Linked DNA regions of Homo sapiens. The protein of the gene in region 1 purifies or fractionates together with the protein of each later gene. This does not show direct contact. Each region holds a gene or a part of one and is shown in the gene's direction. Other genes may lie near its edges. The genes, in order: GHITM, MFN2, PTPN1 and POMK.

The links.
Region 2: the proteins of GHITM (region 1) and MFN2 purify together in Homo sapiens (affinity purification with mass spectrometry; 2 studies listed by BioGRID and IntAct, with this or other methods). This does not show direct contact.
Region 3: the proteins of GHITM (region 1) and PTPN1 purify together in Homo sapiens (affinity purification with mass spectrometry; 3 studies listed by BioGRID and IntAct, with this or other methods). This does not show direct contact.
Region 4: the proteins of GHITM (region 1) and POMK purify together in Homo sapiens (affinity purification with mass spectrometry; 5 studies listed by BioGRID and IntAct, with this or other methods). This does not show direct contact.

Annotation. Positions count from the first base shown.
Region 1 is NC_000010.11:84,142,507-84,150,134, forward strand, and holds part of GHITM (growth hormone-inducible transmembrane protein), read left to right. Parts: intron 1-148; coding exon 149-248; intron 249-1,488; coding exon 1,489-1,600; intron 1,601-2,368; coding exon 2,369-2,510; intron 2,511-6,223; coding exon 6,224-6,332; intron 6,333-7,548; coding exon 7,549-7,628. UniProt on the Homo sapiens protein: Plays an important role in maintenance of mitochondrial morphology and in mediating either calcium or potassium/proton antiport. Mediates proton-dependent calcium efflux from mitochondrion.
Region 2 is NC_000001.11:11,997,444-12,005,071, forward strand, and holds part of MFN2 (mitofusin-2), read left to right. Parts: intron 1-1,326; coding exon 1,327-1,435; intron 1,436-1,544; coding exon 1,545-1,652; intron 1,653-3,957; coding exon 3,958-4,111; intron 4,112-4,325; coding exon 4,326-4,393; intron 4,394-4,538; coding exon 4,539-4,660; intron 4,661-6,548; coding exon 6,549-6,675; intron 6,676-7,065; coding exon 7,066-7,170; intron 7,171-7,381; coding exon 7,382-7,484; intron 7,485-7,628. UniProt on the Homo sapiens protein: Mitochondrial outer membrane GTPase that mediates mitochondrial clustering and fusion. Mitochondria are highly dynamic organelles, and their morphology is determined by the equilibrium between mitochondrial fusion and fission events.
Region 3 is NC_000020.11:50,569,239-50,576,866, forward strand, and holds part of PTPN1 (tyrosine-protein phosphatase non-receptor type 1), read left to right. Parts: intron 1-5,278; coding exon 5,279-5,416; intron 5,417-7,628. UniProt on the Homo sapiens protein: Tyrosine-protein phosphatase which acts as a regulator of endoplasmic reticulum unfolded protein response. Mediates dephosphorylation of EIF2AK3/PERK; inactivating the protein kinase activity of EIF2AK3/PERK.
Region 4 is NC_000008.11:43,096,396-43,104,023, forward strand, and holds part of POMK (protein O-mannose kinase), read left to right. Parts: intron 1-1,128; 5' UTR 1,129-1,220; intron 1,221-6,109; 5' UTR 6,110-6,205; intron 6,206-7,132; 5' UTR 7,133-7,153; coding exon 7,154-7,435; intron 7,436-7,628. UniProt on the Homo sapiens protein: Protein O-mannose kinase that specifically mediates phosphorylation at the 6-position of an O-mannose of the trisaccharide (N-acetylgalactosamine (GalNAc)-beta-1,3-N-acetylglucosamine (GlcNAc)-beta-1,4-mannose) to generate phosphorylated O-mannosyl trisaccharide (N-acetylgalactosamine-beta-1,3-N-acetylglucosamine-beta-1,4-(phosphate-6-)mannose).

The DNA of each region.
Region 1 (7,628 bases):
TAATAAATTTCCATAGTGAAGTTAGGTATATAGAAAGTACCAAGTTTCTTTAACTAGAGTTTTCTAGTGTAAAGGGATCTTGCATTTTATTTTATTAACGTTCTGTTTTCATGTGGGTGGTACGTGTCTTTGTTTGCATGTGTGTCAGGAATATGCCACCAAAACAAGAATTGGGATCCGGCGTGGGAGAACTGGCCAAGAACTCAAAGAGGCAGCATTGGAACCATCGATGGAAAAAATATTTAAAAGTAGGTGGCTATCTTTAGTTTTTAACCTAGAATCTATGGATATGTTTTAAGAGGTCCATGAACAACTTCCTAAAAATATATGTGTATTTGTGCATTTTCTGGGAAGACCACATTATTATTCTGAGATCTGACGACCCAGAAAAGATTGGTACTTTGCACTGGATTCAGTGGTTATCAATCATATTTCTTCCAGTGGAAATTTTACTTTCCTTTTTTTTAAAGAAAAGGATTATTAATATGCCATGGTCCAAAAGGTATACTCTGTTGAGAAAGTTCATTTTAAGTGTGTAGAATCCTCATTCAAGCATATAATATTTGTGTATGTTTCAGATTAAGAATAAATCACCAACACATAGATGTTAATAAAAGCCTAGCTGTCCAAGAAGAATCCTTTAACTCACTGCTCACATAGGGCCTCAGGAGGGCAGTACTTTAATATATTGCCAGTTTGGTTCAGTTTGGATATCAACTTTGCAAGTTCAGAAACTAGATTGTTAATCATCCTAAAGCTATTCAAAGAATACCACTGCTCCTTAATAATCTTGCAAAATGTCTTTACAGTGGGAGAGAGCCCTAATCAGTATCCTTCAGGTCATTTCTTTCTGATTTGACCCTAGAGACCAAATCATGCAAATTATGTAGTGACAGCCTAGTAATATTCTTAGTAAACGAATTAGACTAAAAGAATAAGATGCCCTTTATGAATACCTCTATTGAGTTAGAGTTGATTAGTTGCCTCTCAGTACCCTAAAACGGGAGCCTCCTCTCACTTGATTCTGCTGCATAAACACTGATTATATTTTCTCTTTTTTCTTGATTTCCACGTAAAGCATCATTTGTGTTAATACCATGCAGTATGGTATGACTGTTAACATTTCCTTCTCATTTTTTACTTTCCATGAATGTCATGTGAATATACTTCAACCTCTTATTAGTAAAATAATAGGTATCACAGAAGTAGCTCCACGTCTACAGGTATACTGCTCCCTCAAATATTGTTGGAGGGAGGTTGAAGATTCACCAAGCCTGATCCTTTCTTTTTTGTACTGATTTTTACACCTTTGTTTCAGGAGTGTTTTTTTCTACTGGTTACCTAACATTGAGGCAATTTCTGTACCCCATATGCACTGATTATGGCTTCTATTAAATATGGTACATGATTTGATTCCCTTGATAAATATTTTAAAGGCTTTGTCCAGATGTGCCAGTACTAACCTGCATTTCCTTCTGTGTTCTGCAGTTGATCAGATGGGAAGATGGTTTGTTGCTGGAGGGGCTGCTGTTGGTCTTGGAGCATTGTGCTACTATGGCTTGGGACTGTCTAATGAGATTGGAGCTATTGAAAAGGCTGTGTAAGTAAATTGTTTTAAGTAAACTGTTCCTAAACAACTCCAGCCTTAAAACAAAAATTCAAATTTTCTTCTCATTCCTATCTTTAGTCACTTTGGAATGTTTTGTGTCTAGTCTTTGTGTATACACACAAATAGAGAATCTCTTTTTGCTTCTTTGACATTTATTTATTCAAATCTAAATAAAAATCTTTTAGCAAGGTTATATGTGTTTAAGCAAAGAGAAAATATGAAATATGTTTTTTGTTTGTTTGTTTGTTTGTTTTTTTGGAGAGAGAGTCTTGCTCTATCTCCCAGGCTGGGGTGCAGTGGCGCGATCTTGGCTCACTGCAACCTCCGCCTCCTGGGTTCAGGCAATTCTCCTGCCTCAGGCTCCTGTAGGTGGGATTACAGGCACATGCCACCATGCCCGGCTATTTTTTGTATTTTTAGTAGAGACGGGGTTTCACCATTTTGGCCAGGCTGGTCTCGATCTCCTGACCTCAGGTGATCCACCCACCTCAGCCTCCCAAAGTGCTGGGATTACAGGCATGAGCCACCGCACCCAGCCAAAAATATGTTGTTTTTTATATGTGCTTGTATGTTTTATCTCATTTAGTCCTTACAGTAACTCCCAAGTATGCATAATTATCATAATTATTTCCATGATAAATGAAGTGAATAAGATTTAAAGTGTAAAATGATTTATCCCGAGGTCGCCCAGCTAGTGTGTGACTCAACCAGAAATCAAATCTGTAATTTCATAGATTAATCATGTCATGTTTCTTACAGAATTTGGCCTCAGTATGTCAAGGATAGAATTCATTCCACCTATATGTACTTAGCAGGGAGTATTGGTTTAACAGCTTTGTCTGCCATAGCAATCAGCAGAACGCCTGTTCTCATGAACTTCATGATGAGAGGCTCTTGGGTGGTAAGTCAGCTGTTTTTGTTTTCCTTTTTCATCTAAAGATCAAAAGATTAGATAAAATATATTGGAGGGAAGGGTTATTAAATGGAAAGAATACTGTATTGAACAAGTTTTTGTTCAAATAATGTATGAATTACAGGTTGAGCATCCCTAATTTAAAATCCAGAAATGCTCCAAAATCCAAAACATTTGTAGTGTCAACATGATGCTCAAAGAAAATTGTAGCATTTCACATGTTGGGTTTTTGAATTAGGGATCCTGAACCCTAACAACAATGAAGTGTAATGATAAATAGTCCGAAATCTGAAGTCTGAAACACTTCTGGTCCCAGACATTTCTGATGAGAGTTACTCAACCTGTATTAGTGCAGCTGAGATAAAAGTAGGAAGTTCATTCTAGGTAGGTCAGCTATTATTCTTTATTAAACATGTATTCGAATAATACCAGAGGAGTTAGAAATCAAACTTACAGAGACAACATTTTTGTCTAGCAGCAGATATCAGACAGCCTCTAATTTGTAGCAGTTTACTAAAAAAATAAAGCAAATGCAAAATCATCTTAGAAGTCAGAGGGAAATGCCTATGCAGTTAAGAGCAGAATAGTGCTGCTACTATTATTCCTAAGATTCTTGACCTTATAGAAGATTTTATATTTAATCGGTTTCTCTGGAGCCCTTGTTATTTTGCTAGATAAGAGAATTTGAATATGTGTCCCCTATTCTCCTGCTATTTGGTAGAAGAGATGAACTGGAATAAGTGGCACAGATACGCAATAAGAAAGTGCAAAGTCAGTTGAGAGTTTCTGTCTTGGACTGTTAGGCAAGTTCCGTGAAGGAGACATTTATTTCATCAGGGTTGTTGAAGGCTAACATGTCTCATTTATTTTAGAAGTAGACAAGAGGGCCAGGTGCAGTGGCTCACACCTGTAATCTCAGCGTTTTAGGAGGCTGAGGCAGGAAGATTGCTTGAGCCCAGGAATTTGAGACCAACCTGAGCAACATAGTGAGACACTGTCTGTAATTTTTAAAGAAATAGAAAATTTTAAAAATTAAAAAAAAATTTTTTTAAGTAGACAAGGGCGGTCCAATTTTACCAAACAGTTTAAGGGAAGAGGAGGTAGGAAAACCTAATTTCAGAGGTGACTTACAATCCCATTAGAGGGAAATTCAAGTGTTTGAGGTCTGGAGGGTAAAGAAGACGTGGTTAGAAAGGATACAGTTGTCAAGCTGAGGAGAGAACCTAAGCAGTCGGAGGCCATTGGAGATACTGGAACAACAAAAGCGTGATTTATATTTGAGTTTTTAGAACCAATGTGGAAGAGACATGGAGCAGGTGTACCAGCTGTGCCTTTGTAAGATCTGAAATGAGGGATGATAAGAACCTGAACTAGAGCAGAGTGTGATACTGGAGGGGAAGGAGAGTTCATGTAACACTGATTCCCCACATAGGGACGAAAACCATATTATTTTCACTGTGTTGTACTTTACTAAAGGATAACCATTTACAGTAGCAGCCATTTGGATATTTATATATTCTTAGGATCATGCTTTTTCACATAGACGTCATGAATCTCCCAGCCCAGAGGTTCACAAAGGCACAGAATGTTTCACTGGGGATGTCAGTTTTAATCAGAAGCAAATAATTTAAAACAATACTTTTGTAATAAACATGACAATATTTACCTAAAATTTTAGGCCCTAAAATGAGGCTTCAAAGAAGTTTTGTGTTTGGGCCATATCCTCAGTCCCTTCTGGGCAAAAGATTACCCTCTTCCACTGTTAGTAATACAGAAAATAGGAAAGCCAAAGACAAGTGTTACAGAGATGAAGATGTAACCTTTTGGGTGTGACAGACATATATATACAAACACACACATAGACACACAGATAATGTCAAAGTTTGTCCCAAGTGCATCTGAGGAGAGGTATCTGATCTTGCTCTTGGGCAGCCAGGGTACCTACTAGAAAAAGCTTTTGAGATGAGACAGTACCAGAGTAAGTCGACCAGATATGGAAGGAGATATTCTTAGGCATGATGGATTGAATTAAGGAGGCCTGAAATTTTGGGGCATGTTGGCAGCTGTGCCAGTTCCGTATGGTTGGAATGCAGAGTTTGGAGTGAGACTGGATCATAGAAGATCTTAAAAAAATTTAATTGCTGCTGTCCACAGAGGATGTGTGAAATAGTTTGTAGTAATTATTTCTCGTTAGAAAATGGTGGAGTGGAGCTCGATATGCTTTTCTTTTCTTTTTAATGTTTTTTAAAAATAGAGACTAGATCTCTATGTTTGCCTAGGCTTGGCTTAAATTCCCAGGCTCAAGTGGTCCTTTCACCTCAGCCACCCAAGTAACTGACATTACAGGTCCATACCACTACACCCAGCTCAGTATGCTTTTTCATGTTAAGGTTTTCCCATTCTTGGCAAAACCAGCTATTTGGTTTACCTGTACTTTATATTAGAGGTTGAATATTTTGATGTTCATAGGTGAGACAGATAATACAGATGAGTGAGGAGGCCTAGTGTGTCACACAGGAGATTGTTGACATCTAGAGGTTACTGACATCTAGAGTTAACCTTTTCAACTAAAACCATTCACCATGTTCTTTTTTTTTGTTTGTTTTTTTAAACATAGTTTGCCAAACAAAACATCTGTGGCCTGATTCCAAGGGCTACAAGTTTGCAATCTCTGATTTAAATTTCTTGGAGATTAGCACCATCTTATTTCCATTACATGTTAATACATTCTTCTTGTCATACACAAGCAATATTTAATTATAACACTGGAAATCTAAGATAGGCAAAGAAAAGGAATGAGGACCAAATTAGCCATAAACCTGGAAGGGTAGAAGTGTAGAATCTTATTTCTCATTTTTCTTTTCCATGTGCTGTGATAATCTACTTTCTATTTTTCAAGTCTTCATTTAGCAAATATGGAGTTCAAAGTGATGTGCTATATATATTTTTTTTAAAAATTACTAATTTGTAAGCATCACTGATTTTAAAGAAAATGCTATTTGTGCTATACAAAAATATATTTTTTAATTAAGAGTTAATTATCTTGGGATCCCTAAAGGGTTTTTGTTTCACCTCTGTCCAACAAGAGTAAAATTGTTAAAAGATGTGTTGCCAGTTCAAGCTTAAGACATGCATTTGAAGCTGTCTGCAAAACCTCATATATGGCAGTAGGGGGCACTCGTGCTAACTTAGCCAAAACTCTGAAATAAACCCAGAGCTTTTAATGTGCCAGAAAAATTAAAGTTTTTATTTTTTATTTTTTATTTTTTATTTTTTTATTTTGAGATGGAGTCTCGCTCTGTCACCCAGGCTAGAGTGCAGTGGCACGATCTTGCCTCATTGCAACCTCCACCTCCCGGGTTCAAGTGATTTTCCCACCTCACTCAGCCTCCCAAGTAGCTGGGACTACAGGCGCGCACCACTGCGCCTGGCTAATTTTTGTATTTGTAGTAGAGACAGGGTTTCACCAGTTAGCCAGGCTGGTCTCAAACTTCTGACCTCAGGTGATCCACCTGCCCCAGCCTCCCAAAGTGCTGGGATTGCAGGCGTGAGCCACCACGCCTGGCCTTAAGCTTTGATTTATTATCTTTAATATTTTTACAACTAGTTTATTAGAAGTAACTAATTGTACTTCAAACCTGTGGGTTTCTGCTTTGTTTTCATATAAAGATCAGTTTTTCTTAATAGTACTTGTCTTTCAGACAATTGGTGTGACCTTTGCAGCCATGGTTGGAGCTGGAATGCTGGTACGATCAATACCATATGACCAGAGCCCAGGCCCAAAGCATCTTGCTTGGTTGCTACATTCTGGTATGTTCTGTTTTAAATTGTTACGAGACAACCTTGACTACCACCTTTTTTGGGTGGCTCTTCACAGTTGTAAATGACCTACATGGAATTTAAGCCTCATGTTTAGAAAACACCATTTTCTTCAGTCATTACTGGCTGCATTATTGCCAGACCTTTGCTTTGAAAAGTTGATTTTGCTAAGACCATGGACATCTTCAATACGAAACTTGTATCTTCTGACAGTCTAGTATATGCAGAGATTTACTTTTGTGTATTTTGTTCGATACCAGGAGGGTTTTATATCTAGTACGCATCATTTGAGAGTTGTTTTTGTCTGGTATGTTTAGAAAAATTAAAAACTGAGGATAGAGAAAGTTGTGCTAAAAATGTTGCTGCGAAATAACAAAAAACTGAGAGGAGTCCTAATAGAAGTGTTCTGTGTAGAAATTTCACCCACTGTTTTGCCTAGAGCAAAAAGTATTTTTAAATTATTCATCATCATGAGATAGTATACCTTATTAACCATATAACTTGATCTAGAAATGTTATTCTTTAAGCTAGTATTGAAAATTCAGTATAAAGATAGCTTTGTGCCTAGTCTATGAGGTAAACGACATTTAAGAAAAAGGTAACTTATTCTTCTTAGCACTGAAATAATGCATTATCTAAGTTTTTTTTCAATTAAGGAGTTCCATTTACCTTTGTTGAATTACTGGTAAATTTTTTACGAAATTGTTTATAAATATCTGACAACTAAAATTACTTATTTATAAGCTGTTAGCAGTCCTTATTACATAAAGAAACAGCAGTGTCTGTCTTAGAAGTTCCCACATTTTAAGTTTATCATCATATGCTTTCCCTTTTGACAGCAGTAGGTTTGACCTTGAGTTATTTGTTTTAAGCTTGTTTATCTCAATTATTATATGAATGTTGTAGAAACTAGTGGTAAGCTCAGATTCAAATAGCTACATGGAATTTGATGGTTACTAAATAAGTAGATTAGTGTTTGCTTGTGAGTGTGATTGATTAGGAATAGTGTTAATGTTGTGATATAGAATTTGAGTAGTCACCAATTTGGGCTGTAGAATTTGGTGGGGGTAGTATTATCTAAAGGCAGAACTTTTTGAATCATAGTGCTTAAACAGTAAGGTATAATATAAAGTGGCATGTTAGAAGTGATATTTTCCTTTTGCTTGTTATTTAGTAAATACTTAATGAGCACTTCCTCTTTCTCCAGGTGTGATGGGTGCAGTGGTGGCTCCTCTGACAATATTAGGGGGTCCTCTTCTCATCAGAGCTGCATGGTACACAGCTGGC
Region 2 (7,628 bases), on another chromosome or scaffold:
GGAGGTCCAAACTGGAAGGCACCAGGTTTCCATTTCTGGATAATCTAGGCCAGGGTCCCTGGGCCCCATCCTTGCTCTGCTTAAGTATTACTACCTTTCAGATGGGCTCAACCAAATCCTCTGGCCTCTTGGCTTTCCTCTGGAGTCTGGTTACTATACCTATTTATCAGTACCCTGCAGATGTCCCAGGGATGGTCTGTAAAAGATAGGAGGGATGCTCAAAAGTTGGTGGGGGAGGTTCTCAATCTCAGCCCAGTGCCAGCATGTGTACTGGGGGTGGGGAGTTGTGGCGGAGTCAGAGGTGTATTTTATTTCCCTTGAAGAAACACTTTGCCTTGGCTTGGTGGACTGGTTATAACTATACCAACATGTACAGTATTGTAGTGTTTATCTGGACTCACATCAAGTCACAACTTCACCTTAATTGTATATCATCTTTTTTTTTTTTTTTTTTTTTTGAGACAGAGTCTTGCTCTGTCACCCAGGCTGGAGTGCAGTGGTGCAGTCTCGGCTCACTGCAACCTCCGCCTCCCGGGTTCAAGTGATTCTCCTGCCTCAGCCTCTGGAGTAGCTGGGATTACAGGTGCCCGCCACCATGCCTGGCTAAATTTTGTATTTTTAGTAGAGACGGGGTTTCACCATGTTGGCCAGGCTGGTCTTGAACTGCTGACCTCATGATCCGCCCACCTTAGCCTCCCAAAGTGCTGGGATTACGGGCATGAGCCACTGTGCCCCGCCTGGTATATCATCTTTAAAGTAGAATTACAAGTAATTCTGTTTTTATAAAAGCAATAGATATATGTGTTTAAAAACACTCATTTCTGCCAGGCACGGTGGCTCATGCCTGTAATCCTAGCACTTTGGGAAGCTGAGGCGGGCAGATCAGGAGGTCAAGAGATCGAGACCAGCCTGACCAACATGGTGAAACCCTGTCTCTACTAAAAATACAAAAAAATTAGCTGGGCATGGTGGTGCGTGCCTGTAGTGCCAGCTACTTGGGAGGCTGAGGCAGGAGGATCGCTTGAACCTGGGAGGCGGAGGTTGCAGTGAGCCGAGATCGTGCCATTGCACTCCAGCCCGGGCGACAGAGCAAGACTCTATATCCAAAAACAAAACAAAACAAAACAAAACACTCATTTCCAGGCAATCTGGAAGGATAGGAAATGGGAAGTAAAATCCGTTAATGAGGGCCAGGCCTGATTTCTCTCCCGTCCCTGGCTTTCTCCTCCATGACCTGCCTGCCTCACAAGTCCCAGGTCTGTTCTCAGCAGGAAGAATAGGGCTCCTGCTCTGCCTGATGATTTGGTTTACCCCTGTCACCTTTAGCCCTGGTATTGATGTCACCACAGAGCTGGACAGCTGGATTGACAAGTTTTGTCTGGATGCTGATGTGTTTGTGCTGGTGGCCAACTCAGAGTCCACCCTGATGCAGACGGTAACTCCTCCTCTGCCTTCTCCCAAGCTCCCAGCACCCCCTGGGCAGGCAGCTGATGGGGCCTTGGCTGTCAAGCTCCTGCTCCACCGAGGTCTTACCCTTTATCTAGGAAAAGCACTTCTTCCACAAGGTGAGTGAGCGTCTCTCCCGGCCAAACATCTTCATCCTGAACAACCGCTGGGATGCATCTGCCTCAGAGCCCGAGTACATGGAGGAGGTTCGTGCTTCTGTTTGGCAGTTTGGGGAATGCAACCCCGAGGGAGCACTGCCTGCCACTGGGGCCACTTCCTGCACCCCTGGATCTAGTGACTTCCCTGAATTAATTTTATTGCCAAAGAATTCTCCAAATACTCTTCTGTGGTATCTTCTGGTGGTCTTTCCCCTCTCCCATCCACTTTGCTGGATGCACCCCCTCTTCAAGCCACTCTCCCCTAGGCCTAAAAAGGATCCCTGCTGCATTAGTGCATCTTCAGTGCCGGTGCTCAGTTTGGTTTCTGAGGAATTAATACAGAACAGGCTCAGCTCTAGGGAGGCCTCTGGGAAAGAGGCTGGAAAGAGGAATGGAGAATAACTGGTTCTTACTGGTGACTTACAACTCTTAGCTATTTACTTATTTATTTAGAGACTGGGTTATGAGGCTGGCTAATTTTTGTATTTTTGGTAGAGACGGGGTTTTGTCATGTTGCCCACGCTGGTTTTGAACTCCTGGGCTCAGGTGATCCACCTGCCTCAGCCTCCCAAAGTGCTGGGATTACAGGCATGAGCCACCACGCCTGGCCTCACAACTCTTTAAATATGTGAAATGAAAGACAAAAGGGTAACAAACGGCATGGTGGTGCACACCTATAGGCTGAGAGAGGATCCCTTGAGAGTAGGAATTTGAAACCACCTTGGGCGACGTAGCAAAACGCCATCTCCAAAAAAATAAAGGGTAGGCCGGGCGCGGTGGCTCACGCCTGTAATCCCAGCACTTTGGGAGGCCGATGTGGGCGGATCACGAGGTCAGGAGATCGAGACCATCCTGGCTAACGTGGTGAAACCCCGTGTCTACTAAAAATACAAAAAATTAGCCGGGTGTGATGGTGGCAGGCGCCTGTAGTCCCAGCTACGCGGGAGGCTAAGGCAGGAGAACGGCGTGAACCCGGGAGGTGGAGCTTGCAGTGAGCTGAGATTGTGCCACTGTACTCCAGCCTGGGCAAGAGAGTGAGATTCCGTCTCACAAAAAATAATTAAACAAATAAAGGGTAATAAGATTGATAATATGGCAATATGGGATGATAAAACATGCAGTTGCAGTCAGTAGGCCAGAGTCCAAATTATTTATTTTTTTCGAGATGGAGTTTTGCTCTTGTCACCCAGGCTGGAGTGCAGTGGCACAATCTCGGCTCACTGCAACCTCCACCTCCAGGGTTCAAGCAATTCTGCCTCAGCCTCCCGAGTAGCTGGGATTACAGGCACCCGCCACCACACCTGGCTAATTTTTGTATTTTTAATAGAGATGGGGTTTCACCATGTTGGCCAGGCTGGTCTTGAACTCCTGACCTTAAGTGATCCGCCCGCCTCGGCCTCCCAAAGTGCTGGGATTACGGGCGTGAGCCACTGTGCCCGCTTGTGACTGACACTAGGCAGTGTGACTTTGTTAGCTTCCTTGACCCTTCTGGTAATCCAATTTCCTGGCCAGTGTGATGGTGTGATAAATAGACTTGTTGAGAGGATGAAATCTGTCAAAAACACCTGACACGTGGTAGGTGTCTACAAGAAGCTATTGTCACATTTTATCGGTAGAACCCCAGGATGTCAGAGCCAGGAGGGATGTTCTAGTGATGCCCACTCCTTTTATAAACAATGCCCCAGGAGGACACAGCTTGTCAGAGTATAGGTCCCAGATTTAGGTTTCTTGACCTCAGGGTTCCTTTCCTGCCAGGGCACCAAAATGAGGCACTATATAGGCTTAACAAGAGGCAGTCTAGGGCACGTTTAAGCATTTCTGCTTGTATATGCATAAAATATCTTTGGCACGCTCACTGCCAAGTAACCCCCACACGTTGGTCTGGGAAACTTGGTGGTGAGAGAGCAGAATAGTGGGGGACATTACACTGTGTATGTGTTTGTGCCTTTGGCTGTTGAGCCATGTGAATATATTGCCTATTCTTTTTTTTCCCTCACTCTGTCGCCCAGGCTGGAGTGCAGTGGTGCTATCTTGGCTCACTGCAACCTCCGCCTCCAGGTTCAAGTGATTCTCCTGCCTCAGCCTCCTGAGTAGCTGGGATTACAGGCGCCTGCCACCATGCCTGGCTAATTTTTTTGTATTTTTAGTAGAGACAGGGTTTCACCATGGTGGCCAGGCTGGTCTTGAACTCCCGACCTCAAGTGATCCACCTGCCTTGGCTTCCCAAAGTGCTGGGATTACAGGCGTCAGCCACCATGCCCAGCCTCTTATGACCTATTCTTTTAATAAAAGAGGCAGGTGGGGGCTGTGGGGCCACCTACACTCACTCTGGACACATTTGTTTGGGCTCCAGGTGCGGCGGCAGCACATGGAGCGTTGTACCAGCTTCCTGGTGGATGAGCTGGGCGTGGTGGATCGATCCCAGGCCGGGGACCGCATCTTCTTTGTGTCTGCTAAGGAGGTGCTCAACGCCAGGATTCAGAAAGCCCAGGGCATGCCTGAAGGAGGTAATGATGAGAACAGATGTCCTCCTTTTCTCTGATGTTTGAGACATTTTGTCTCGTGCTGAGGAGTCTGTCAGTAGAAAATCCTTCTGAGAAGGGGATGCTGAGAAGAGCAGAGAGGCTCTTGCTCTTTAGCCAGTGGCTTGGTTTCTGGGGATTTCATCGTTTTCCTCTGCTGCCAAGTTGTTTCTGGACTAATGCAGTACAATCCTCCTAGGGGGCGCTCTCGCAGAAGGCTTTCAAGTGAGGATGTTTGAGTTTCAGAATTTTGAGAGGAGATTTGAGGTGAGTCCTCTGATTCTGGTATCTGGCGATTCTGTGCCTCCCCAGCTCCCATTGGCTGTGTCCCTGGCAGTGAAAACCAGAGTCTGGCCCTTGGTTGTAGGCCCCTGGTGGCCCCCACCTCCCTCCGTGCCTCTGTGTGTTCCAGGAGTGCATCTCCCAGTCTGCAGTGAAGACCAAGTTTGAGCAGCACACGGTCCGGGCCAAGCAGATTGCAGAGGCGGTTCGACTCATCATGGACTCCCTGCACATGGCGGCTCGGGAGCAGCAGTAAGAGTCCAAGACTGCAGATAGGTGGAGAGAGCTGCCGAGACAAGGGTGCTCCACCCCTGCCTTGGGCAGTTAGGACACGCCTTGATGGCAGGGCTGAGTCTCTGGGCTCCCATCCAGAGCCCTTTCCCTGGCCACCAGACCATGTTAGAACCACATAGACAGCCTGGTGAGGAGGGCGGCTGGGTGCTTCATCACCCCACCTGGTCTGTGCAGCACGATTCCCTGTGTTGGAGGTCTTGGCCCATGCCCTGCTGAGCTCTGCAGCCATTCTCAGAGCCTGAACACATTTTTCAAAACAACATTCCAGCCAGGAGCAGTGACTCACACCTGTGATCTCAACACTTTGGGAGACCAAGGCAGGAGGACTGCTTGAGGCCAGGAGTCCAGCCCAGATAACATAGTGAGATCCCATCTCTACAAGAATTTTAAAAATCAGCTGGGTGTGGTGGCACACACCTGTAGTTCCAGCTACTTGGGAGGCTGAGGCAGGAGGATCACTGGAGCCCAGGAGTTCAGGGTTCCAGTGAGCTGTGATCGCACCACTGCACTCCAGCCTGGGCAACAGAGTGAGACCCTGTCACTAAAGAATAATATGAAAACACCTTGCTTCTATCACACAGAATTGACTTTCTCAGTTGTTTATGTTAAGTTAAAATTTTAAAAAGTTCAGTTCCCTTTTGATTCTTTTGCACTTGTCCCAGTGTCACTCTGCCCTGAGGCACCATAATCATGAATTTACATTGTTCTATCACCCAAACAGTACTTTTTACATAAATGCTGAGGAATATGTCAGGTTTTTACATGCTTCAGATGTACAGATGTGGCATCACACTGTCTGTCACTGTACCTGGCTTTGCTTTCTCAACATCGTTTTTCCCTCTATCCTTGTTAGTATGTGTAGTTTGTTTATGAATCGGAACTGCTGTAGTATATTCCATTGTGAATATGCCTCATTTTCCTATGGATGGAATTTTAGATTTTTTTTTTGCTATTGGAAACCCTACTGCAGTGGACATTTGTTCATGTGTCCCCTTGTGCACCTTTTTAAGAGTCTTCCTGGGGTGAGTTCCTAGGGGTGTGGCAATTCTGTTTTAGGGTACACGCGTTTCCAGTTTTAGTCAGTTTTCTTGATGCTCTTCAGAACAGCCGTACCCATTCATTGCATGACCAGTACTGTCCATAGGCCTTCCATTTCATCAGCCCTCACCAGAACTTCAGACCTGGTCATTTTTGCCAGGCCTTGGTAGAAAATAGTGCCTTTAAAAATTTCATTTACAACTGGGCATGGTGGCTCACGCCTGTAATCCCAACACTTTGGGAGGCCAAGGCGGATGGATCACCTGAGGTCAGGAGTTCAAGACCAGCCTGACCAACACGGAGAAACCCTGTCTCTGCTAAAAATACAAAATTAGCTGGGTGTGGTGGCGCATGCCTGTAATCCCAGCTACTCGGGAGGCTGAAGCAGGAGAATCGCTTGAACCCAGGAAGTGGAGGTTGCAGTGAGTGGAGATCGTGCCATTGCACTCCAGCCTGGGCAACAAGAGTGAAACTCCATCTCAAAAAAAAAAAAAAAATCATTTCTGTGATTACTAGTGAGGTTGAGCTTTTTTCCCTATATTAATTGGCAGAATTTGTTTAAACCCCCTTAAAGCGCCCTCCCTGTTTTGTGCCCACCACCTGACCCACATCGAAGACTGAAGAGTGCATGGTTGGCTGCAGGGTCCTCTTCTTACCTGGGAAGGGGAAGGCCATGCCCCTGGGTGCGTGTGTGCAGCCCTGCCAGGCAAGATAGCGGGCAGGGCGGCGTGGGATTTCTGGCATCCCCTCTTGCTCCTCTGCTTAGTCAGACAGGAACATGGATTTCTCACCAGTACTCTGCTTTCAGGGTTTACTGCGAGGAAATGCGTGAAGAGCGGCAAGACCGACTGAAATTTATTGACAAACAGCTGGAGCTCTTGGCTCAAGACTATAAGCTGCGAATTAAGCAGATTACGGAGGAAGTGGAGAGGCAGGTGAGAAATGAGGAGGAGGCATTCTGGGAAGATTTGGACTCCGAGTAGAGTCCAGAAGAAAGCAGACCTCCTCCTCTTAGGGACTTCTCAGCCTTTCAGAAGAAAGTTGTGGCCCTGTTTCAAGAATACAGAGCTGCCGTTTGGGTTCCATTGTCGGGTTGTGTGATGCTGGGCATGTTCCCTTTCCTCTGGACCTCCACAGATCATGTGGGCGTTTGATCAGCCAGTTTCCCAGACCCTCTCACTTCAGAGGCTTTAATTCCATAGAGGAGCTGAGGAGGCTGCTGGTTTGAGAGGAAGGATGTGCCATCTGCTAGGATCTCTCCTGGTGCTGCAGGAGTGAACTTTGGTCTTCCTTGATACTTAACAGTGTGCTTCCTTTTGCTGTAGGTGTCGACTGCAATGGCCGAGGAGATCAGGCGCCTCTCTGTACTGGTGGACGATTACCAGATGGACTTCCACCCTTCTCCAGTAGTCCTCAAGGTTTATAAGAATGTGAGTCATGGAGCAACAGGTCCTCTTGGCAGGAGGCCCCCAAAAGTGATTCAACCCCTGTTGGTCTGGGTCAGGGCCCCCCAGCAGTGACAGTAGAAGCCACAGAGACAAGGCCCAGGCTTCCGTCAGCCTTCTGGGGTCACCTGGTGGATGTGGCCTGAAGGGAATTTTGATGGACATGCTTCTCTTAACTTCCCTCTTCTGGTGGCAGGAGCTGCACCGCCACATAGAGGAAGGACTGGGTCGAAACATGTCTGACCGCTGCTCCACGGCCATCACCAACTCCCTGCAGACCATGCAGCAGGACATGATAGGTTAGTGCCCATGGGGAACTGGGCAGCTGTGGCCCTGGGCTGCCCAAAGATCAGATGCGGAGGCCAAGCTAAAGAAATCAGGACTTTCCTTATCTGTCACTTTTCATGATGATTCAACTCGATACCTTCAGGTTCTGGGTACAT
Region 3 (7,628 bases), on another chromosome or scaffold:
TTACGGAACCCTGCAGGTCTGGCCCTAGGCCCCTGGACACAGACCTCTCACCACTCTTGGAACTTTAGCCAGGACAAAGTTTTCTGTTTTTAGTTTCTTACCATGTTCTCTGGGCCGAGGAGTCCCAGTGCCCACGTTCATCCCACTTGCAGGCACCCCTGGACGGCTGCCCCCAGCTCCCCAACTGCCTGCATTCTCCCCTGCCCTCCTCACTCTGTTGGAATAGCTGAGAATAGCCGATTTCTGGGCAGCCGGCCTCCTGTGTAGACTGTCCTGTGTAGACTGTCCTGTGTAGATTGTCTGTGTAGACTGTCCTGTGTAGATTGTCTGTGTAGACTGTCCTGTGTAGACTGTCCATGTAAACTGTCCTGTGTAGATTGTCTGTGTAGACTGTCCTGTGTAGACTGTCCTGTGTAGATTGTCTGTGTAGACTGTCTCTGTAGACCGTCGTGTATAGACTGTCCTGTGTAGACTGTCTCTGTAGACCGTCGTGTATAGACTGTCCTGTGTAGACTGTCTCTGTAGACCGTCCTGTGTAGATTGTCTGTGTAGACCATCCTGTGTAGACCATCCCATTTAGACCATCTGCCTGTGCAGGCGCAGGCCAGTGTTCAGCAGGGCCACAGGCTCCTCGGCCTCCCTGCCCTCGCTGCTCCCCAACACTGCCAACCCTGCTGCGGGGTCCAGGAGGAGATGGGCTGAGGATCGTGGAGACCAGCAGGAGCGTGTGGCCCAGGAGCAGGGAACTGGGTGTCCTTGGGCCTTGCCAGGTCCAGGCTCAGCTAGGACACGGCTCTCACAGCTGTCCTGGTTGCCTCCGGCCACAGAAGAAGGTGAGGGCTCCAGAGAGGCCACCTTTCCAAAAAAAGCACAGTCATGGCCCTAGAATGTAAAAAATCCAAGTGTTAAGAAGGAACACATCAAAGGAAACTTCAGCAGTGAAAACTTGAAGCATTAACCACGAAGCCTCTGCCTCCACCACACACAAAGAAACGGCTTTAGTTACTCGCAGAAAGTCTTCCTCTTAGGACAGCGCGTGTTTAAAATCATAGGGGTTTGGTTTGTTTTGTTTTGGGGTTGGGGTTTTTTGGGGGTTTTTTACCCTTGCCTACTTTTTAAAAAATGAAAGTGTTTATTTGCCCAACAATAACAGACAGGGAGCTTGCCTAAGTGTTCTGTTGATGATATAATGTATCTTGTCTTAGAAAAAAACTTTTTCAGTGAAAGGTGGTTTTTAAATTTTTTCTTCCCTCCTTAGTAGCTTGATTAGTAAAATGTGAAGTTACAAATGTGAAGCAAACCCCCACCCTTCACCACTAGTCAGCAATTTTGAGTAAAGAAACAAAGCATCAGGTGCTCACAGCACACACTGTCTTAGAGGGAAGGGGAAGCCTGGTGGCCTGTGGAAGCCTTCAGCATAGCTCCATCTGCAGGCTTCTGACCCTCAGCACTACTGACACTTGGGCTGGATCATTGTCTGCTAGGGATCCGGGCAGGGAGTGGCTGTGCTGGGCGCTGTAGGAAGTTTAGCAGCATCTCTGGCCTCTATCCACCAGATGCCAGTAGCACCCCCTCCCCAGATGTGGCAGTCAGATGTGTTTCTGTCTAGACTCCAGACTTTGTCCAACGTCCCCTGGTAGGCCAAATTGCCCCCGGTTGAGAACCACCGCTCTAGATGGTATTGAGGGTTGGGAATTTTAAATCAAGACATTTATTCAGAAATTACCAGATATAGTAGCATTTGCTTCTTATTTATTTCTTTGTTGCTAAGTGTTTGGCAAAACCTCTTTGCTGTGAGCACAAGGTTTGCTTTAGCAATTGTTGTCACATTACAGCAAGGAGTGGTGTCCAGCGCTGTAGTTATGTATTTGAGCAGTGTCCAGTGCTGTAGTTATGTGTTCCAGCCTCACCAGGCCCTGTGCTTCATTGTCTCCCACTCAAGACTGACCACAAATGGCCCACAGATCCACTGTGACAACCTTTCCCTTTGGGTTACTGTGGTGGCATCGAGAACATGGCTGGTTGGCTTTGCTGTAGTTTACTGTGATAACTGTGCCAGCAGTCCCTGCTTTCCTTTGTTAAGTATCCCATTCCACTGGAGGATTACTTGGGCGTGCAGATTGGCATGAAAAGCAATGTATGGTTTGAGATTGTTAAAGTTTCTTTGGGATCAACATTTTCAATTCTGTATCAGCATTATCCCTCCCAGAGGGCTGGCTGGGAGAAATCATGAGAAGTTACAGTATCTTATTTGCTCAGCTAATCTAATTATAAATGATCCACACAGCTTGTGGTAAAACCAGCTTTTGGGGAGTTTTCATTTAATGCATACTTGTCTTCTGATTTCCTTCCTTCACCAAATAGTGTAGGATGCTCCCTCTTATTTTTGGCAAACATGCCTGTTATCTTTTGGGACCCTGGGCTTCCTGGAAACCAGTTATGCAGAAGATGATTGTGTGTGTTAGACTGGGGTCATCCAGATGGCTAGAGTTCTCACTGGTTCTGTTTAAGGATTGACTTTAGACACCTCAGTGTAGGCTGCACCATGGCGTAAGGGTTGGGATTGTTGTTTAGAAGGGGGAAGTAAGCAAGGTGAGTTTAATTGGCCATTGCAGAATCTCACCCGTATCTCCCTCCTGAAATCCTCACTAAAGCTGCCGTTTGCTTTCAGGTGCTTTCATGCACAAGACACTGCATTTTGTATCACAGGGTCCATATAATTCATTTTTCTCTCGTACTTAGTTCTCTGTGTTAAGAATTACTTACTTAGTTCTCTGTGTTAATAATTTTTGGCGAAACCAAATTACCCGTCACAGGGTTACTGTAGATGTCTTTCATAGGTTTTCCAAACACCACTTGCCCACTTGTTTGGGAAGGCCCCAAGGACTGTTTAACATCTGCCTTCATGGTGGAAACAGCAACTATGAGAGATGCTAGCATGTTGGCACTGCCATGTTCCTCTGGTACCAGCCCAAGATAGGACTCAATTTGAGGCCTGGTGAAGTACTGTGTTCTAATAAAAATCCATCTACTTTTCATGGCCGTATATATCAATGTAATAGGGTAACTGGAAATGTGATCTTGTGCCTTTTAAAAATTTTGTGTGTTTAAAACAAAAATTTCTATTGGAAATGACAGAGCATAGCTTGTTGCTGTAGACACCTGAGAGTCCTTAAAAATAAATATTGGGTTATTGACACTTAGTTGCATGACAGAATTCCTCACTTGTACAGTTCCAAAGTCTTAGTCTTTACCCAGATTACAGAGGGTTATTAAGCATTAGGTTTGGTTTTGAAAGTGAGTGCTTGCTGTCTGGAGGTGAGCTTTAAGACTCGTCTGCCCTGCTTATGAGATGAGGAAGGGTGGCCTCTTCCTCCTGCATTTCTGTTCTTCGCTTCCTTCTCTGTCTGCTCACTCTGTGGAATGCCCACCCCAGCACGGGTGGGGTGGAACCTGTCAGATCAGTCTCTTGTTTCTGGGGTCTTGAGGCATTATAAGATCTAGTTGTTAGAAGTGTGGGATTAATTCATCTTTTCACATTCTTCTAAGTTCCTGCTTTTAGCTGCCACACCCACTTTGGCTAAGTGGGGGTCTTGCCATGTAATTAGCGCCTCCATGCCAAGTGGCAGAATTGCTTCAATGGTGACAGATTGTCCCCATTCAAGAGTTCACTTTTGGCAACTCATCATTGATCCAGGAAGGTGACATGGATGAAACTGGCTAAGACTTCAGACAGGCTTGTGTCCAGACTCTTGAGAAAGCTCTGTTGGCTTCTGGTCTGGCACTGTGAAGTTTGCTGTGATGCTGGCACCACAACCTGGTGTTTCCTAATTTGTTTCTCCCACATTTTGCTTTGGTTTTGTCTTTTGGGCAGCTTCCAGCTCCAGTAGAGCAGGACCAATAGGCATTTGTGGTTCTATATTCACCCTCCTCACGTGCTTCCTGGCTCCTCATTGCCCCCAGATGATGCCACAGGTCCCTGGGCCTGCTGCCAGTCGTCTGTGATCTGGGCCTCTGCTGGCCCCTTCTCCAGCTGCTCTTTTCAGCCTCTTATTTGCAGTCACTGCCTAGGAAATCCTAGTCATCCTTCAAAACCTGCCTCTTGCACAGAGCTTTCTCTGATCTCTCTTTTCTGTAACCTTGGCTGACCTGAAACATTTCCCTCTTCTGAATTCCTGCTGCATGTCCGTAGCATTTCCCCCTCAGCCCTCCCCCATAGTCCACCTTGTCACTGCTGGGCACAGCAGTGTCTTCTGACAGACAGCTGGCCCTGAAGTGGTTCCCTTCACCCACACCATCCTTTGCCCCAGAGGAGGTATTGAGTGGGTCAGTGCACGTGAACTGCCAGTGTCATTTGCCAAAGAGCTGTTGACACACGCTGACATTTCTTTTGCTGAAAATCATAAGGGCTTTGAGCTTCCCTCTGTCCAGGCACATGGTCAGGCTGACCCGGTAGCTCTGCCCCTGCTGACCTGCCATTTTTGTCCACAACAGTTATCCATGAGCAGAAACATTTGTGTAACTGAGGCAGAAACTTAGTTCAAGTAAAATGTCACTAAATTCGAGTCAGTTTTTGTCTTAGACCCTAAATGAAACCAAATTTTCATAAATTTTCTTGTTTTAAAGAAAAATTTAATGAGCTACATTTAAACTGAGAACATCAGATAGTGTCTGAGATTATCAAAATAGAACATCAAAAGTATTTTTCTGAATGAACTGAACCAAACCAGAATGAAAGGGCAAGCCCTGGGGAGCCTGTCTCCAAGCCTTCTCTGAAAGGGAGTCTGTATTTGGTGATAACTGCTCAGCCTCTCCAAAGGGCCTCACCTGCTGTCTCTCCCAGTTTTATTTTTAATTGCCTGTGAGTTTTCTGTGCAGGGTAAGGCACCTACATTCTATGCCAGCAGCCTGATCAGGTCCTGGGTAATGTTTGAAATGGCTACACAGAGGAGTTTCAAAGCCTTTTGTTCAATCTGGCTTCACCTCGTAGACGGTGAGAAAGCGTCAGAGCCCTGCAGGATCCCGTTGCCACGTTTGACCGGGGAGCCGATGGGTTTGGAAGTCTGAGCCCTGTCTGCACAACCTGCCCCGGTCAGCAGCTTCGTGCCCCCACCCCCATCTCCCCATGAGGCAGGCATCTGTGCTGACCATGGCTTCCATGTTCAGAAACCCCCAGGCCTTTGAGTTATCATGAAGCTTGTGGGATGTGCTCCAAGCCTCCTGCCATAGAAAAACTGCCATATTGCTCACAATAATTCACTATTATTTGTTTCCCCAGTTAAAATGCGCACAATACTGGCCACAAAAAGAAGAAAAAGAGATGATCTTTGAAGACACAAATTTGAAATTAACATTGATCTCTGAAGATATCAAGTCATATTATACAGTGCGACAGCTAGAATTGGAAAACCTTACAGTGAGTATAGCACACACTTCAGCACTTCAGGCGGCTACTGGTTCACATGCCTCTTCCTTTATCCCTTGGGTGATATTACCTAATGTCAGTGTTCCTGGCTTTTGTATACCCCGAGCAAGATGTGGTTTGGGCACTGTGGTGAGCGGAGCTTACTTGTGTACCTACCAAGTGCCCAGGGAGGGTGGAGGCCACAGTGCTCTCTCTGACCTTTAACAACAGTTAACACCAGTTCTTAGGGAAAGGAGAGTTTCTTACCCAAAAGACTGGTTCCTGCTTGTGCAGCTGCAGAGGGACTGGAGCGGCAGCCTGCAAGTCCCAGTGAAGCATGCTGCCTTCTTTGTGGTCCTCAGTCTTCGAGTCTGAAGAGAGGGAAGAAGGGGTATAGGGGCTCACTCCAGTTTCATAGCTAGTGAAAGTTTTCTGGGCCAGGTCTTGGGTTTTTTTGTTGTGGGAAGAGTTTATAACACCAGCTACTTGCTTGGTAAAAGTTGGTCTTGGAACATGGCAAGGCATTGTGGCAAGCAGCACTGCCGCTGAACGCGCTGCTCCTGGGGCTTTGGAATAATTCCCCTGGATCCGTAACTTGGGGGTGTTCATGTCATTCTGGGGAACAGTGGAGGGAGTGCGCGGCAGCACCTGGGGGCACCAGTGAAGAGTGGCCAGCCACCAACCTCTAGAACCTAACTGGGGTCGAATCCTGGCCCCACCTTACTAGCTCATCACAGTGTCTCCGTTTCCTCTTCTGTCAAACTCAGGTTTTGCGAGGGTTCTGGGAGGTCCTATACGGGAAGGGTTAGCAGTTACCATGGGTGTGTAGCACGGGCTTTATCTGAAGGGAAGGTGGAGCCGTAGGGAGACCATGTGGAGTGGGGCTCCAGGGCTGTGTGGGTGGGGAGGGATCTGCTTCTGGGTTACCCCATGCCTCCCCTTCTCAAGTACTACTTTTTAATCATCATGGCTCCTGCCATTCATTTCATAGTTGATGTAAGCCAGGTGCGGTGGCTCACGTCTTTAATCCCAGCACTTGGGGAGGCTGAGGCCAGGAGGATCACTCGAGGCCAGGAGTTCAAGACCAGCTTGGGCAACATAGTGAGACCCCCGTCTCTACAAAAAAACAAAAACAGTTAGTCAGACATCGTGGTGCTCCCCTATAGTCCAGCTACTCAGGAGGCTGAGGCAGGAGGATTGCTTGTGCCCGGGAGTTCAAGGCTGCAGTGAGCTATGCTTGCACCACTGCACTCTAGCCTGGGTGACAGAGCAAGACCCTGTCTCAAAAATAAATAAATAAAAAAAATAGTAGAAGTAAGATCTAGAATGTAGCACAGGTTACCAGGACGTAGGCAAGGGGTTCGGGCTGCCTGGCTCTTGAGGATGGTAGCAGTGCAGCTGATGTGAGTGCTTTCTGCCCTCTGGTGGTGACCGCGCCGGAGTCACCAGCCCTGCCATAGCCCTGATGGGGCAGAGGGTTCTGAGTACGGTGGATGGAGGTGCTTTCTGGAAGATTCTCAGGAGTAACATGGGCAGTGTGTTGGAATGTGCTAGAGGATTTATGCAGTAGCCTTTTAAAAGAATGCTTTTTAGCATTTGCAAGCCTGACATTAAGAGTGACTTCTGGGAAACTATTTGCTTGTTGAGGGAAACTGAATTTCAACAGAGCAGAAGAGCTGTGCGCTTTTTGCTTGGCAGAGTGAATACAGCCAGCTCAGAGGTTTTGATGTTAGGATCTGTTTGCTCCAACAGACTTTGTTTTTAAAAGGCTTTTCTCAGCCATAGCTGTCTGTTCTAGCACAAGGCTGGAATGAGTTCCTTGTGAAAGAGGTGAGCAGGTGTGAGGGAGGGTGTCAGTGGGCGGTAACCCACACCTTCAAGGATTAAAGGAAAACTTGCATTTGGCATGCTTGCTTCTTATTCAATTTTAAAATACATTTTAACGGCCGGGCACGGTGGCTAACACCTGTAATCCCAGCACTTTGAGGGGCTGAGGTGGGTGGTTCACGAGGCCAGGGGTTCAAGACCAGCCTGGCCAAGATGGTGAAACCCCATCTCTACTAAAAATACAAAAAAAAAAAAAATTAGCCGGGCGTGGTGGCGGGCACCTGTAATCCCAGCTACTCGGGAGGCTGAGGCAGAGAATTGCTTGAACCCAGGAGGCGGAGGTTGCATTGAGCCGAGATCATGCCACTGCATTCCAGCCTGGGCGGCAGAGCAAGAC
Region 4 (7,628 bases), on another chromosome or scaffold:
CTCATGCCTGTAATCCCAGCACTTTGGGAAGCCAAGGTGGGCGGATCACGAGGTCAGGAGATTGAGACCATCTGGCCAACATAGTGAAACTCCGTCTCTATTAAAATACTAAAATTAGCTGGGCATGGTGGCACGTGCCTGTAATCCCAGCTCTGTAATCCCAGCTACTCAGGAGGCTGAGGCAGGAGAATCCCTTTAACAAGGGAGTCAGAGGTTGCAGTGAGCTGAGATTGTGCTATAGCACTCCAGCCTGGTGACAGAGTGAGACTCCTTCTCAAAAAAAGAAAAAAGAAAAAAAAGAAAGCTCTCCCTGCATGTATCAGAGAAACTTCCATGTATGCCTGGGGAGATGTATACACAGCTTGTCTCACTAATTGTGGAAAAGTCAAACCAGTTGAAAATAGTGAACTGAGTTTTGTGCATCTGCATGGATAAATCTCAGAAATGTAATGTTGAGCTTTTAAAAAAAACTGGTTGCAGGAGGATAATACCAGCCCATCACTGTTTGTATAAAGCTTGAAAACATATGTATGATTTATGGGCACATACTTGTGAAAATAAGCATGTATGAGAAGCGGAGTTTGGTAACCCATCCCTGTAGTCAGTCCCAGCTGCTTGGGAGGTGGAGGCAGGAGGATCACTTGAGTCTAGCCTGGGCAACATAGTGAGACTCCATGTCTTAAGTAGATAGATAAGTAGGTAGGTAAATAGATAAGATCGATTAGATAGATAGACAGCATGTATAGGAATTATATACACCAGTGGTTTTCAGACTTTAGCATGCATCCAAATCACCTAGAGGATTTATTAAAACACAGATGTTCATTTCTGATTCAGTAGGTTTGGAGTGTGGACCCAAGAATTTGCATTTCTCCCAGGTTCCTGGGCTATGACGCCACAGGTCTGGGGAGCACAGTTTGAGAATCTCTGATGTCCACCAACTTGAAGATAGTGATCACTTCTTGAGGGGGAGTAGAATTGGATGGGGAGGAGTCCAGAGGGTCTTCAACTCTATTTGTAATATTTAATTTCTTTAAAAAAAGATCTGAAAAAATGATGCAGTGTGACTTGACAAAGCTGGATGAATGCTTATGATTTTTTTTTTCTCTGTGTGTGAAACACTTAAAGAAAAAGGATCCTGTTTGCTGTGTAATCCTGAGAATGGACTGCAAGAGAGGAAAAACTGGGCGTCTGCTTGGGAATCTATTGTGGAAACCCAGGTGAGAGGTGCTGCTGGCTCACGCAGCGGGGTGGAGGGGAAGGGCAGCAAGGAAGGAGATATGCAAGCAGTTGTGAGGGAGGTTTTGGTGGGAGCATTGACTGCATGTGGTAATCGGTTGGTTTAGAGTTTAGGGGAGGGAGGAATCAAGTCACACACACCTGGTCTGTAACTTGAGTGGGTGGTTGGGTCATGAGCCCATGACAGAGGGAACCCTGGAGGAGGGGCCTGTGGGGACTGGGGAGTTCTGCAGTGGACATCCCATACCTTGATAGGCCAGTGAGCAAAGCATAGGAGAGACCTGGGCTGCAGTGCAGACTTAGAAAGCAGCAGAGTTCAGATGGCTGCTAGTGTCCCAGGTGTGGGTGAGGTTACCTGGGTCTTTGGCAGACCTGGAGGAATGCCATCACCTAAGGCAGGGCTTGGCCAACCACAGCTTCTGCTTGTTTTTGCGTAGCCTGAGAGCTGGGAATGCTTTTATCTTTTTAAATGTTAGGGGGAGACTTCAAGGAAGATATAATTCACAAACCATAACATTTGACATTTTAAAGTGTACAATTCAGTGATATTTAGCATATTTACAAGGTTGTACAATCATCATCACTGTCTAATTCAGGAACATTTTAGCCAAAAAGAGACCCCATCCCTGTCAGCAGCTATTCCACCCCCTGCCTCCCCAGCCTCTGGGAGCCACAAATCTATGTTCTGTGTCTGAATTTGCTGTTTCTGGACATTTCATGTAAATGGAATCTTACAGCATGTGGCCTTTTTGTCAGGCTTATTTCACTGAGCATGATGTTTCCAGGGTTCACCCATGTTGCAGCATGAATTAGTGCTTTATTTTTTATGGCTGAATAATATTCCATTTATGGATGTACCACATTTTGTCTATCCATTCATCTGCCAATGGACACTTGGCTTGTTTCCACTGTTTGGCAGTTGTGGATAATGCTTCCGTGAACATTCATGTATGAGTGTGTGTGTGAGTGTGTGTGTTTTCATAGGTACATACTGGGCAGTGGAGTTGCTGGGTCGTGTGGTGACTGTGCTTAACCTTTTGAGGAGCGGCCAGACTGCTTTCCACAGTGGCTGCATTTTACTTTCTCACCAGTGATGTTTGAGGATTTCAGTTTTTCCACATTCCCCTATGTTGTTACTGATTTTTGTATTATAGCCATCCTCATGGGTGTAAAATGCCATCTTGTCACACTTCTGATCTGCGTTTGCCTTGATGACTGGTGAAGCTGAGCATCTTTCATGTATGTGCCTGTTGGCCATCTGTGTATCTACTTTGGAGAAATGTCTGTTCAAGTCCTTTGCCCATTTTAAAAATTTTATTTGTTTATTTTTTTGAGACAGGGTCTCACTGTCACTCAGGCTGGAGTGTTGTGGCACGATCACAGCTCACTGCAGCCTTGGTCTCCTGGACTCAAATGATCCTCCCACCTCAGCCTCCTGAGTAGCTGGGCCTATAGGCACAGGCCAACATGCCTGGCTAATTTTTAAATTTAGTTTTTGTAGACAGGAGGTCTTACTATGTTACCCTGGCTGGTCTGGAACTCCTAGGCTCAAGCGATCCTCCCACCTTGGCCTCCCAAAGTGCCGGGATTACAAGTGTGAGCCACCAATGCCTGACCCTTTGCACATTTTTAAATTGAGTTGTTTTTTTTGAATCTTTTGAGTTGTTCACCAGACATCCACATGGAGATGTCAAGGAAGCAAGCCTTGGGTTCTGAGGAGAGGCTGGGAATGGAGTTTTACCTTTGGAAGTTGTCAGCAGGCAGCGATGAAAAGTCCTGAGTCTGGGTGAGCTCTCCCAGGGAGTGTGGCAGAGGCCTGAGCTCTGAACTCTGGGGGACCCCACTACGTGGACTCAGAGATGAGGAGCTGCCAGAATGTAGTTTCCTGGAAACCAATTATATAAGGCGTTTAAGGAGGGAGTTATCAATCACGGTAGATGCTATTGATAGATCAAGGAAGACTGGGGCTGTGCTTTGACTGTTGTGTTTAGTGATGTGGAGGCCACCTGTGCTGACTGTGATAAGGTCAGTTTGGGTGCAGTGGCAGTGAGTTGGAGAGAATGAGAGGACAGAGCTGGGCGTGGGGTTTGCCTGAGCTGGGCTCGGGGCCAGTTTCATGGTAACACACTGTTTGTAGTAATAGGAGAGTGCAGGAACCTGGGGTGGGGCTTGGGAACTGGTGGAAATGCTCTCTGATTGCTTCTGTTTTTCTAGTAAAATAGGATGATCTCGTTAGATGATCAGCTGAGAGTGAAGGTGGGGGAACAGGTGGTACATGTTTGGAGAAGGAGAGTGTGAGCTTCCAGCTAGCCTAAGGCCACTCGGGACACACCTATCACTTTTATTGACTCACTGCAATAAGCGAGGCTGCATACTGGCGGGACTTGCATATCTTCATCAGAGGGACAGAGAGTCATCTGAGAGGGCACAGGGCAGGAGTCCTTCGGGGCCTCTCTGACCTGGCCCGGGGCAGGGAGCTGGGGATGGAAGTGCCATGAGTGCAAATAGGGAGCAGGGGGTCAGAGGAACAGAGGATATGGGAATGGGTGGTGGAGCCGGGAGAGACTGGAGCTTTGCCAATGGGGGCCTGGGCTGAGCAGGGCTCAGAGCATGTGGTGATGAGCCTTATGGCAGGTGAGGCTCAAGGCCCAGTGTGTGCTTAGGGAAGTGGGCAGCAGAGCGGGTGAGGGACCCGTGGGTGTATCACAGGGGTAGGGTGTTGAGGAAGTTCCAAAGCAAGCTAATAGGGGTTATGGCTGGAGAGAGGCCCAGTGTGTGTGCTAATGGGGGATAGTGTGGTAGAGGCACCAGGGTGTGTGCTAATAGGCCTCTGAGGCCTCGTGTGTGGTGATGGGGGTGTGTATGGTGTTAGTGCTGTGTGTGTGTCTGTGGGGGCCTGCAGGGTAGGAGAGAATGGGGTGCTTATGGAGGGGAGGTGGTTGAAGGACTCAAGTGCTGGGTGTGCGCTTGTGGGGGTTGTGCCGTGGTGGGTGTGTGCATGCGCTAATAAAGGTCTGGGTAGTTGGAGCCCAGTGCATGCTAATGGAACAGAGCTGGAGGGACCTCATGGAGGGATCTGATGGAGGGAGGACGGTGGGAGACCTGAGCCTGTGCTAGCGGGGATGAGGATTGTGGATCTCTGTGAGGTAGGGGGTGGTGGTGGTGCGGGAAGGGTCTTGGTACCGTCAGAGGCCCGGTGCGCTAAGGGTCAAGTTGGTGTGAGGTGCACGTGTGTCCCTGAGCACGAGGACACTCTAGGAAGGGGCAGCCGGATGGTTTAAGGCGTTCTAGAGGCTGCTACTGTGGGTTTAGAGCCATAGAGGCACTGAAGTGTGTGCCATTGCTGGGAGAGTCAGCAGTGTGAGGTCTGGAGTACGCTCAAGAGCGCCAGAACAGTATGAGCTTGTGTGCTTGCATCTGTGGGGTACTGGAATGTGTTGAGGTTCCAGGGAATACTGATGCAGGGGATGAGTAGAGCCGTGGAGGGGATAAAAATAAATTTAAAAGGCCAGGTGCAGTGGCTCATGCCTGTAATCCCAGCAATTTGGGAGGCTGACGCAGGAGGATTGCTTGAGGCCAGGAGTTCAAGGCCAGCCTGAGCAACATCGTGAGACCCAGTCTCTACAAAAAAAAATACAAAAATTAGCTGGATGTGGTGATGCGCACCTGTAGTCCCAGCTACTAAGGAGGCAGAGGTGACAGGATTGCTTGAGTTTGAGGCTGCATTGAGCTATGATTGCACCACTGCACTCCAGCCCGAGTGACAGAGTCAGACCCTATGTCAAAAAAAAAAAAAAAAAAAAGGAAGAAAATCATAGAATTTTGGAGATGAGTAAAGTTTAGGCAAATTTAAATGAAGTAGTGTTTTGATGGGCTCAAAGCCATGTAGAACTGAGTGTAAAGGGGCCAAGATCTAGTCTGGACTGCAAAGTGGTCCTCTTTCCTTGGAGACTACCAGGTTAACATAGATGTGCAGGATTATCTCCAGAAACTCCTTATCTGAAGGTCTGCCCTGTTTGGGAACTGAGGTTGCTTCTGTGTGTCAGAGTGACTTTGATCCTCCAGGAAAGCATGGGATGTTTTATCCCAACTGATAAGACTTCAAACTGCAAAATTTCTGGTAGTCTGTGATTGTAGAGAACAGAATTTCTAGGTAGTAAAAAAGGAGTCTTCATCCAAAGGGGGTTTTTGACACTTTATGGCTGCAGTGTGTTCTAAGGAGAAATGCCGTTTCCTGTTAACTTTGTGGTTTCATTGACGTCTTGTCCCAGCTCTGTATATGGGAGTGGATTTTGTTTTCTCAAGGAGGAGGTAGGAACAAGCTTCCTGTCCTGGATTTTTCATGGCTGGCTCCTCTCAGGCCTCTAGTCACAGTGTGAAGGTCACCTCCTTAGAGAGGTCTCCTGGGATGCTTCCTCCAGGGAGTTCCTACACAGTTACTCTCTATCTTTGAACCCCCATCACAGGATGATGATAGACCTATTTGTTTACTTGTTTATTGTCTGTCTTCCCCACTAGACTTTTCCCCTAAGCTCCAGCAGGATAGGAACCATGCTGGTGTAATTCACTGTGTGTGAATGTCTCCAGCACCCACTGCAGGGCTGGGCACATAGAAGCTGCTCAGGACATGTTGCGGGAATGAGCAGCTGGAAGTCAGTGATGGAGAAGAAGAGAGCAGACTGGGACAGAGAGACTCTGATGGGCTTCCCCACGGCCCTGCTCTGTCCTGGGGCTTGAGAACCTGAGGAAACCTGGACTTGAGGCAGGAGGAGGGCCCTGGGAAAGTTGGACCGTTTGGACTATGGCGATTTGTCTGGGTACATAGCTGCAGTTTCTGTTTACACACTTCCTGTTTGGTACTTTGTGGCAGGGTGTTTCCCGACCAGTCCCTGGGCGCCAACTAGAGTATGGACTGACCAGGTACCTGGATGGAGACCTGAGCTGGAGAAGGAGATGCGCTTGGGAGGTAACCCTGCATGTCACAGCTGTCTCTGACCCAGTTCTGTCCCAGTGCCCCAGCATTCCAGTGCTGTTTAGCTGGCTCCCACTGGCATGGCCACATCCACTGTTAAAGTCTCCATATACTTCCATTCTGCTCCATTCTGCTTCTGTAAATCACCTCTGCCATCCACGGTCCTACTTCAGGCTTCTCCGCAGCCAGGCCCCTCCACCATGGCCTTGCACGGCTCCAGCGGTAGAGCCCACACATTATCAGTGGTTACTTATCGCTGGTGTGACATCTGAGTGGTCATCTCTCCAATCTCATCGCTGTTATTCTAGCTCATGTACTTGTCAGCTCCTGTCCGTGGTCATAACCAGGGCTTCTTAATAACTGGTCTCCCAGCCTCAGTCTCTTTCACCCCAAATCTACCTTTCATAACTGCTGAAGAGTAGCTTTTATTTCTTAAAACTGTTGAGGGGATTCTGAGTACCTCCCAGGGAACAGGACAGCTGCTTAGCTGAGTTCGACAGAGGCCCTCAGCTTCCCAGCCTCCACCTGCTACCCTAAGCAGCCTCCTTCTGCTGTCCTTTGTCCACCCTCTGTCCCTGTCCCACCAGTTGACTAATACATTTTGCTTTCATTTTACTGAATATTCATGAGCATCTATTTAATGCATGCTACTGTGAGTCGGACAGAGTCAGACACAAACACCTCCCACCTAACCTAATCTAGAGGAACCCGCATTTTAGTTTGTAATAAAAAGTAATGATTATGGAAACAGCTAACATTGGGCATTTGGGATAAGCCTGGTGTTCGATACCTGCTTTAATCCCCACGGTAACGCTGCAGCTTACAGGACCCTTGAGTAGAAGAGGCATCAGAACACATTTTTGGAAATGAAAGGAAGTGAAAGCTGACTGTCATGACTTCTTGTTTCATTGTGTATTTTAGGAAATTGCAGAGGCCGTCAACATGGAAAAGCAGCCCCAGAACAGCAGGAGAGGCCTCGCCCCCCGAGAGGTGCCGCCAGCTGTTGGGCTGCTGCTGATCATGGCCCTGATGAATACTCTGCTCTACCTCTGCCTCGACCACTTCTTCATCGCTCCTCGACAATCCACTGTGGACCCCACACACTGTCCCTATGGTCACTTCAGGATAGGACAGATGAAAAACTGCTCACCTTGGCTGTCCTGCGAGGAGCTGAGAACAGAAGTGAGACAGCTGAAGCGTGTTGGGGAAGGAGCTGTAAAGAGAGTGAGTCCGGGTTCATTTGCGATTGCTGTCATCCTGTTATTTCGCTTAACACAGTGTCCTCCAGCTCCATCCATGCTGGCACGGATTACGGAATTTCATCCTTTGTTACTGCCAAAGTGTACTCCATTGCATATGTGCACCACATTTGCTTTGGTTGATTCTGTATCTTGGCAATTGTGAATAGTGCTGCAGT